2 separate regions of the Homo sapiens genome follow, and region 1 is linked to region 2. The links come from fine-mapping of genetic effects on gene expression. A gene starts in region 2. The other region holds a variant in brackets. All regions are shown on one strand. Distances are between the middles of the regions.

The links. PIP is the estimated chance that this variant, and not a neighbour inherited with it, causes the effect.
Region 1: its variant is the best candidate, but not a certain one, in a credible set for the expression of FRYL in whole blood (TOPMed, PIP 0.80).

What each region holds. Positions count from the first base shown.
Region 1 is chr4:48,568,764-48,574,146 of GRCh38, reverse strand. It overlaps FRYL (FRY like transcription coactivator), which reads left to right. Exons shown (of 64, transcript NM_015030.2): 26 at 904-961; 27 at 3,229-3,320. Among named protein-coding and RNA genes, the nearest start is that of ZAR1, 81 kb to the right of the region's middle. The variant T/A (reference allele first, on the strand shown) is at 2,425.
Region 2 is chr4:48,778,246-48,783,628 of GRCh38, reverse strand. FRYL (FRY like transcription coactivator) reads left to right here and starts at 3,350. Exons shown (of 64, transcript NM_015030.2): 1 at 3,350-3,551. RefSeq lists silencers at 3,305-3,414, 3,505-4,384.

The sequences.
Region 1 (5,383 bases), 210 kb after region 2:
TAAAATCAAAATATAAATAAAGAGAAATTTATCATTTTTACAAAGTTCATACCCTTTGACCCATTAATTTAATTTGTAAAATTAATCCTAAGGGGATAGAAACGAAAACAGTGAAAAATGTACAAAGTTGTTCACAGAGGCAATATTTTTAGTAAGAGAAAATTAGATAAAATAAAATGATTCATTAATAAATGAAAATGTCTAGGAAAATTATGGTACCCCACCCTATGTTCGAATATCATGAATTAATTATTGGCATATAAAATTAACTATGTTAGTGTAAGAAAAGAAAAATAGGCCAGGCGCGGTGGCTCACACCTGTAATCCCAACACTTTGGGAGGCTGAGGCGGGCAAATCGCCTGAGGTCGGGAGTTTGAGACCAGCCTGACCAACATGGAGAAACCCTGTTTCTACTAAAAATACAAAAAATTAGCCAGGCATAGTGGTGCATGCCTGTAATCCCAGCTACTCAGGAGGCTGAGGCAGGAGAATCACTTGAATCCGGGAGGCGTAAGTTGCAGTGAGCCGAGATCACGCCATTGCACTCCAGCCTGGGCAACAAGAGCGAAACTCCATCTCAAAAAATAAAAAAGGATACCATTTTATATAAAACAGTTTCAACTAAGTAAAACGTATGTGGATTGCAAACTGATTGAATAAAAATATTGGTAGTATTCCCTCTATAAATTAAAATAAGAGGCCTATACCATTTTTTTTCTGGTTTCCAAATAGTCTATAATATAATGTGTTATTTTATAAACCAAATAAAAAAATAGACATTGTGTTTAAAACAGTAGGATTGGAATTAACACTTGTCAGTTTACATCATGTTTTTACATATTTACCTGTGTCAGATTATATCTGTGTAGCTATTAATAGAATATGTACCATTTTTCTTCCAGGGAACTAATAGAGGAATTACATCCCATAATTAAAGAAGCACTCGAAAGAAGGCCAGAGGTGAGCTGTGTTCTGCAGCCTTGTATTAGTGAACATTCATTTTTCTGCCATATTTACATGTTATATCAAAAGTTAGAAATTACGAAGACTATCTAGTGTATTCTTCTTTTTAAGATGCAGACACTTCCCCTCCCCGCAGAAGATCTTATGCAGAAACCCATTATGTAAAACGGATGAAAAATTGCTTTAACTTAAGTGAGGGCAGAAAATAGGGTCTAGAATGGAGTTGGCAAACTTTTTCTGCAAAGGACCGGATGGTAAATATTTTCGGCTTTACAGGCCATACTGTCTCTACTCAGCCCTGCCTTTGTAGCATGAAAGCGTTCGTAAACTACATAAAAAAAGGAGTGTGGCTGTTTGCCAGTAAAACAGTAAAAAATTTGCAGCGACAGGTAGCAGTGGGCCAGATTTGGCCCATGGGATGTAGTTTCACAAGACTGAGCCTAGATTCCCAAATCTACAGGTTCTGAGCAGCTTTCAGAAACTATAGGTCCAGTGGGACAGATGGTTATGAAAACCTTAATTCTAACAATTTATTACGCACTCAAGTAAAATCATAGAGAAGAGATTCTAAGAACTACAGAGAAGAAAGCCTGGGACTCTGGTTGCAGGGTAAGGAAGGCATTATAGATGAAGTGCTGATATTTCAGATGAATTTTGAAGCACGTTCCTCAGTGGACAAACAAGGGAAAAAGGTATTCTAGGCAAAGAACAGCATTTGCAAACTTTACAAAGAATTTTGAAATTGCAAATTTTTCTGTGTAGTTATATTATGGGGGAAGTGATTGAATATTAGGCTGGATAGCAAGATGAGAAATATCTCATGAAAAACTACTAGCTTTAGCTTTAACCAGTAGAACAGTAGTTCCTGTGCCTGTGGCATCTGAGAGTTACCTGGGGAGCTTGCTAAAAATTTTAGACTCCTGGGTCTATTGAATGAGAATCCCTGGAATAGGGTCCAGAAGTCTGTTTTTGTAAAGCATCTTAGATGAGTCTGCTGTAGAACATTGTTTGGGAATCAGTGCTGTTAATGTTGGGGATGCCCTGAGGAATTTAAGCAGGAGAGGGAGATGGTGATAATCCCTGCAGTTTAGGGACTTTGAAACATCATCTGCAATTCCTCATTCTCCTTTAATTCAGCACTGTAGGGTCATGATAGTATTCCTATTTTGTCATTGATTTGATTTTTGTTTCAGAATGATCAGTTTGGTTACAGTGCTGGATGACTTGTTAGAGAAATGTGAGATTGAAACAAAACAAAATAGCAGTATTTATTCTTCTGAATTTCAGAAGGAATGCTATTAAACACATGCAGTGATGTGCCTTGAATGTGAGTTATAGTTGAAGAGCTTTAGACTCACACTGTTTCTGTGAAGACAAAATGAAAACAGGCCAACCAAACTGCAAAAGCCAGTTGCAGAAATCTTCAAAGACTGATAAGAAATCATCCTGTTTCAAATGAA[T/A]TGCTGTCAACTTTAGAAAGAGCCAAGAGAAAAGTAAATGTAATTGATTAGTCATTAGTAAATTATCATGCACCTGGAAGGCAGAAAAATTGGGTCATGGACAAGAAAGTGAAATTTCAACTAGTAAATATGGTTTTAATTTGCTCTGTAATATGAAAATTACATCACAAATGAAATAATGACCTATAGTAGAAGGTGATATAGGTGATTGATATCTCTTACATGACTTTCTGCTAGAAGCAGAATCACGTTGAAATGTTACAGCTATTATTCTGGGCATTATTCTAGTTCTTTGGACCTAGTAATACAAACATATTTATTCATATCATAATGAGTAAAGAAGTTTTTCTTGTATTTGTTTATATTTTTTGTGCCAAAATTGTTGTGTAGAAAACTGTGGCATGAGCAAAATCTTAAGTCCTTTTTAGGATTGTTTTCCCTATACTTCTGTCATATTTTTGGGAGGGTATTAGGGATTCCTTATAATTCCATGATAACAGTTTACTAATTGCTTCAATTCCAAAACTGTCTGATTAGCAAATAACCTAAAAATGTAGTATTTTACTTCCCCTGACACACAGGGGTTGTCACCATGTAAGATGTCATGTGACCTTATTTGACTCATTCATTTCAAACTGTTCACTCATACCTCTTTGAGGCAGTAGCTACCAGAGTACCCACAGTCTACACTGTACAAGCAAAATAACTTCAATGAGCCCAGAACCTCTCTCTGAGGCAGTCACATTATTCTTTCCAAGTTACACCAGCAGGATTTTAATTAATGTGTTTGTATCTTTGGAATAGAATATGAAACGGCGCAGGCGTCGAGACATTTTACGAGTACAACTGGTACGAATATTTGAACTGCTGGCAGATGCTGGTGTCATTAGTCACAGGTCAGTATTGGATTCACATTGTTAAAACTCTGGAATGATCCTAGAGAACGTAATCTCTTTTCGCTCATGAAATGTATAAAAACAGAAAAGCACCATTGCAACAAGAAAACCTGTATGTATCACTGTGAAAATTATTTAACAAATAAATATGCATTCGATACACTGACCAGTAGCTAAAAATGTATTGAAAAATCTACTACCAGAATTGGATTGCTTCTGGCAAAAAATGGATATAATGTTCCTATGATTTTGATATTTGTTGGAACCTAGTTATCTTGGCAAGTGGACAGTGGTAGCTTTTTCTGTCACAAAGGAAAAAAGATTTTCCTTTTTCTTACCTCATTTTAAAGATGTTTTTCTTCTGAGCTTGAAAAAATAATATATTCACAGGCTAAACATTGTAAAGCTTACAAATTTATTCAAATGAACTTGCTATCTATCCTGCCAGGGAAAATTATGAAATCTTACAAATATAATTCATAACTGTTTTCCACCATTCACAGATAAAACCATGAAACCTGGAGATATTGCCGCAGTAAAGGCATCTTCACACTAAGCCCAGCCCCTTGAGGAAAATTCCATCAGCTGAATGTTGAAAAATAACTATTTCCTTAGGAGGATAATGGTGTTACCTGACCGTTGAAGGAGAAATATAATAGATGTGACCATATCCAAAAAGGTCACTGAAAAGATATCTTAAGGAAAAAAAAATGGACTAGGTGCAGTGGCTCACGCCTGTAATCCCAGCATTTTGGGAGGCTGAGATGGGTGGATCACTTGAGCCCAGGGGTTGGAGACCAGCCTAGGCAACATAGCAAAATCCCATCTCTATAAAAAACGCAAACAATCAGCCAGGAATAGTGGCAGACACCAGTAGTCCCAGATACCTGGAAGGCTGAGGTGGAAGGATCACCTGAGCCCAGGACATTGAGGTTACAGTGAGCCTTGACCATGCCACTGCACTGCAGCCTGGGAAAAGAGCGAGACTTTGTCTTGAAACAAAAAGGAAAAAAAAGAAGTATTATTAATCCAACAAGTGTAGTAACTATGATAACTGCACAGCATTATTCCTTTAGCATTTCTCCCAATTATTTATTTTACCGAACACCTTTCATATGTAGCATTGAATGCTTTTGACAAATACTTTCAAAATAGATTTTTAATCAGAGTATTTAAACCATTGATTTACTTTTCTTTCTTAATAAAAAGCAAATAAAAAAAAGAAATATTGGCCGATGCAGTGGCTCACACCTGTAATCCCAGCACTTTGGGAGGCCAAGGAGGGCGGATCACCTGAGGTCAGACTATCCTGGCCAACATGGCGAAACCCCGTCTCTACCAAAAATACAAAAATTAGCTGGGCACGGTGATGCGTGCCTGTAGTCTCAGCTACTCGGGAGGCTGAGGCAGGAGAATCACTCAAACCCAGGAGGTGGAGGTTGCTGTGAGCCAAGATAGTGCCATTGCACTTCAGCCTGGGTGAGAAGAGTGAAACTCCGCCTCAAAAGAAAAAAAAAGAAAGAAAGAAATACTATTCTCTTTTCTTTCCTCCACAAAAAATAAGAGTTAAAGTTAGGAAAAGTGAAATTGAAACTTGTGGGCTTGATGCAAAAAATTAACAACCTGATACACATCTGAATCTTCTTTGGTTGCTTTAATTGTAGCATTCGTAGAAGAATCTTTGAATGGTTCTATTTTGGGGACTGCAAAATTTTGCTGTATTTAAAATTACCAAAAACTATATGACTATTAAGCAATAATGATTTTTGAACCCAGTTGTGTATTTTGTTTTGAAGTATTTTTTAAAGAGTTATTAATAGAAAGTTATTGCTATTCTGGATTTTTAAATTTTCATGGCTACGGAAAAAAATGAATTCTGAATGCCAAGAAGACAGGGAGCTTTGTTTTGTTCACCTAGTGGATTTCATGTGCCTGACACATAGAAGGTAATGAATATTTGTTAGATTAATGAAGATTTTATTCTGGTACAGGTTGTAGTCCACTAAATCAGTTTCCTATCCACTAGTAGGTCATGATCCAGAGCTTGAAAAACACTCATTTAA
Region 2 (5,383 bases):
TATTTTTAGTAGAGACGGGGTTTCACCATGTTGGTCAGCCTGGTCTCGAACTCCTGAGCTCAAGTGATTTACCTGCCTCGGCCTCCCAGTGCTGGGAATACAGGTGTGAGCCACTGCACTTGGCCCCCATTTTCTCACTATTCTTAACACATAATAGTCGCTATATAAGTGTGTGGTGAACTGGAAAGAATTTCCAATAGGAATGGTAACATAATTTTTCAGAGGAAAAATAATTACTGGTTAAACTATGGAACCTCTTTGAGGGGTACATTTGCATATAAACAGGGAGAATAGTGATCATAACATATTTCACTTTTTTTGTATTTTTTATTTTTGACACGGAGTCTTGCTATGTCATCCAGGCTGGAGTGCAGTGGTGCGATCTCAGCTCACTGCAACCTCCGCCTCCCGAGTTCAAGCCATTCTCCTGCCTCAGCCTCCCGAGTAGCTGGAATTACAGGCATGCGCCACCACGCCCGGCTAATTTTTGTATTTTTAGTAAAGACGAGGTTTCACCATGTTGGCCAGGCTGGTCTTGAACTCCTGACCTGAGGTGATCTGCCTGCCTCGGCCTCACAAAGTGCTGAGATTACTGGCACGGTGTGAGCCATGGTGCCTGGAGGTATTTCACCATTTAAAAGACTTTAACAAACATCTATATACAATAATTTAAAAAGCTTTATTTACATTAGCACATTGGAGAAGGGTGTGTGTGTGTGTGTGTGTGTGTGTGTGTGTGTGTGTGACAGAGTGAGACTCTGTCGCCCAGGCTGGAGTACAGTGGTGCAATCTTGGCTCACTGCAACCTTCGCCTTTCGGGTTCAAGTGATTCTCCTGCCTCAGCCTCCCCAGTAGCTGGGATCACAGGCCTGTGACCATTCCCACCAGCTAATTTTTGTATTTTTTGCAGAGATGGGGTTTCGCCATGTTGCCCAGGCTGGTCTTGAACTCCTGGCCTCAAGTCATCCACCTGCCTTGGCCTCCCAAAGTGCTGGGATTACAGGCGTGAGCCACTGCACCCAGCCGAGAAATATTCTTTTTTTAAAGAGTGGGGATTGGGCTTAGAATGAGAAACTAAGGTAGAGAGATAAAGTCTCTCTGAATGAGAAAGTACAACTTGTAAAATTCTCCAGGGTTAGAACTGGGGCTGTGTTCATCAACACTGAACATTCTTAAGAATAACCTCTACGTTGTAAGCTCCAGGTTTGTAGATTTTTAAAATTCTTCTTTGCTGTGAAATGCCAGTAGGAGTATTAGTACCAGGAAGTTGCATGTGTGGGCTAAAAAGTGATAAATGATCCTATTGTGGGCAAATATGAAATATTTAGAGAAAAGAATAACACAAATTATACTTGAAAGGTGATAATCTCAGCATAGTTGGTTCAATGCAAGTAAGAGAATCTAGAGGTTACTGTAGACTGCCTTCTCTAGTTTATATGCCCAGTCTGCTAGTGCAGCAAAAGAGGGCAGTAACAAGCTGGATATCATAGGGCAGGTGTTTTAGAAAGAACCTGAAAACATCACTTAGACCTTGAACAAAAGCTGCAGGTGTGTACATGCCTGAAACACTGGATATCTTTATCTCCAGAAGATCATACTAGATATCAGTACATAGTATCTTCTTCTTCTTATATTCTAATGTAGAATATTAGAACCCAGAAGCAGTCTCAGAGTTTGAGAGTGGTAAGTGAGTAAACCAGAAGTATTAGTTTAGCTTGGCTGCAGTTTTATTATACAGTAAAATCAGAATAGGCTAAGCATAGGGATTTAGTTATAGGGACTTAATAGGGAGGATGTGTGTATCTGTGAAGGCCATATAAATGCAACCCAGATAGTTCATCGTCTCTTGCCCCCACTAGTGATACCTAAACCACCTTCCTGCAACGTTCCCTTTTGTTTCCTGCTCTTTCATATTTTCGGGAATCCTCATGAAATTTTTCACCTGTATTTGGGGAAAAGTCCTATGAACTACCAACTACTGATGTTTACTTACCCTTCTCTGTCATCATCAAGCCCCTTTTCTAGGGTACTGCTGAGCACTGACACTTCCTTGGCACCATTAGATTATACTGGGGTATCACTGCAAATGTACTAAAGCCCCCGGGGTACACAGTCTTCAAGGTTCATCGGCAAAGAGGGAGAGAACACATAACCATTTTCCCCTAACATTCTTAGATGGGTACCGAAGCTGTACCTGTACTCAATTTTAGTGGAAATAAACCTTTTAGTTCTTACAGCTCCAGTGGGAAACTGGGGAAACTCTAAAGCAGACCCCGCACTAGGCTTCCCCATAATTTCTTCTCTTTTCAATGCGTGAGGTTCTGCTCCATGGTCAAGCTTCTGGTATCAGATTCCCTCTTTCCCTTAGACAGACTCGTTTTCTCCTGAGAGGCATCTCAGTTGTTCAAGTGACCTGGGGTGTTTTTCCTACAGTTCTAGCAAGGGGGAACGAAGTCCTACACTTTGAGGATGGCATAAGGGTACCATCTACTTAATTTTTTCAAAAAAGTAACAGGTCTCGTGGAAACGCGGGAACGTCACAGAGGACGTGACTTAAACGGAACTTGTAATGGAAATGATTTTCTAAATGAACAATTGCGAGACAAGCAAGGAAACCTCCAGGTTTGCAGATAACTTGATTAAAGCTCTTCCGGGTGGCAAAATGCCAGTGCAATCAATGGTATGAGTAGGGCGGACAGTGGATGAAACTTGTTGAGTAAATCTCAGGAGGAATTAGCACTGGACTTTCAGGTATTCTAACTCAATTCTAACCATTCCATTCTCTGGATCATTGGATAAGGTTCCGCAGGATCCGGGCGCCAGCTCTGGATACATTACTGATCGGGAGAAAATTTTGAATTTTTCTCTTGTCCCTTTCCAGCTTTCCTCAATATAGGATATGAGTTTGTCCTCGACCCCTAACAACATTTAAAGGTAAAGTCGCTCCTAGAAGGCAAAGCGGAGAGGACTTTGCGGCTGTGTTTCTCAAGCCCGTAAAGAGAGAGTAATAATGGTAGGGAGCGTGCAGACTAGCTCTTTCCTTGCCCAATCAAGTGTACAGGAAGATGTCCTTTCACCAATAAAAATAAAGTTCGCTTTCCGGAGGCGGGAGGGTGAGCCTTGACTGCCAGGGCTCCAAAGCAACGTTAGAGGCGAGGGCAGAGAATGATTAGAGGGAAGACCAACCCGGGAAAAGGGGCGGGGAGAAGGTAGGAGCAACTTTGAGCGGCGGCTGGCCAGGCCAGTGGAGGGCGAGGACTGCTGTTCCTGTTGTAGTGTTTCTCGCCAATCAGGAAGGCCAGGGGGCGGGCGGGGTAGGGAAGGGGTGGGAAGACCTCGCAGCACAGCCGGGCGCCCGTCGGGCTCTGGGAGAGAGCGAGAGAGAAATCCGGTTAAAATCAGAGTCGGAGGGAGGTTTAACCACAGATCGGTTCCGATCGGATTATTCCTTAAAGGGGACGCGCCATTGTCAAGAGAACGGAGCCAGGGGCCCGAGGGCGGGGACCGGCGGCGCTGGAGGAGCGAGGCAGCTGTACTAGGACTGGGAACGGGTAGGTGTTGACTGGGGAAAGGCGCTTCATTTTACTTTCTCTTCCAGCCCCGGGGCAGGCGCCGGGATGCCCGCCGCCGGCAGCCCAGCCTGGGCGGGAGACGAGGTCGTCGGCCCTCGCCAGCTGTCCTTCCTGGTGGGCGCCGAGGGAAGGCGGTCCAGGATGGCTGGCAAGCGGCGCGGCGCGGCCCGGGCCGGCGCTCGTAACGGACACCAAACCGCGGCGCAACCCCAGCCTCAACCGAAAGCCCGCCCGAGCTCCGGCGGTTCCGCCGGCAGCGCCGCGCGCCCGTCTCTCCCGCACGTCCCCTTCCCCTCCAGTGCCTGGCTCTTCTCGCGCGCGCCCGGGTACCCCTCGCGCGCCGCCTTCTCGCGCGTCCTGCTCTGGTCGCGCGCCGCCTCGCCACCGACTCGCGGGAGCCGCCCCGCGGGAAGGAAGGCGGTGGCAGAGGTGGAGGAAGACCGGCGACCACGGCTCCGCCGCCTCGGCTGGGAAGGGAGGGCTGAGGAGCAAACTTAGCGCGGCGGCTGGCGGGCCCCGGCGGGCAGGGCTGGCGGGGACCGGCGGAGCGCGCCAGCCCAGCCGGGCATTGTCCGCCTTTTCCCTTGCTCTGGTCTCTCCGCCCACTGCTCGCGGTCCTGGGGAGGGGTGCGGGCGCTGTGCCCGCGCAGCCCCGGGCCGTTGGCGTACCCCGGGACCCGGAGTCTTCCGGAGCCGGAGCCAGCCCTGCGGACACCGCGGCCACCGCCCGCGAGCTGACTCGGCCTGTAGATTGCCTGCTGCTCTCAGCCTCGGCACCGGGCAGGGTGCCTGGGCGCTGAGCTCTTCTTTGCAACTTTTATTTGCCGTTTGATGGAAGTTGTTGCTTCCGGGCGGCAGGTTCTTTGGGCACAGCCTGGTTTCCTGCGTTCTGGAGAGGCTGGTTTCTAGGGCGAAATGATTTATTGCTGCCGGTCTTTCCTGCCATCCTAGTTTAGTTCCTCGCCACCTAAAATCGCATTTTTGTGGATTTGCAATGATATGGGAGCATTAATCTTTCCTAGGCCAAGATTTGAAAAGAAAAAAAAGGGGGTGGGGGTTAGGGTGTGTGCTGGTGAGGAGCAAGAGTTCTTAGTAGAGCTGAGTTTGCCCTTACCTTTGAACTGCGGAAAATATTACTTCGATTCACTGGCTGGGGTTCTTTTGGAAGGGTAGGGGAAAAAAGACACAGCAAGACAGGTTGCCAGGGTCTGTCGGATTGGGGGGGAAAAAGGGTTTTGATGGAAGTAAAGTTGGTTTTATAAAATGCTGTGCTGCCTAGGAGATATCGTCTGTAAAGTTGATTCTGCTACTGAATTTACAGCCATTATAATTAGTACCAACAGCTTTTACTATTGATAAAAACTAGTATAAGACGTCTTTTCATCTTGAGCATTATCACTCTGCTTAATCTGTCAATACTTGCCGAGGAAATCAGAGATAGCACATTCCTTGTTAGAGGCCTTAGTGAAGAATGTTTTCATAAGCATTCATTTTTGACAGTTTCTTCTTGTGCAATACTTTATGTAGAGTACTTGCATGTGCAAGTTACAACCGTATAAACAAAGTAGCAGTGGGTGTGTTATTCTCTGGTCTTTTTTCTGCTACTCATTATCAAAAATAGCATTCCATCGTGTCTTGTCTTCCACTCTGAATTATTTTGTAAAATTAGTTCTCTAAAAGAGGGAATTCTGTTGGAACATGTGACCCAGTTTTTTTTTTTTTTATTAAAGCAGTCCAACTTTTTAAAGCGTTCATCGATTAATTTATTGTCTAGTAACTTCGGAGTGGTGTGGAACATTGTAAATTCACAG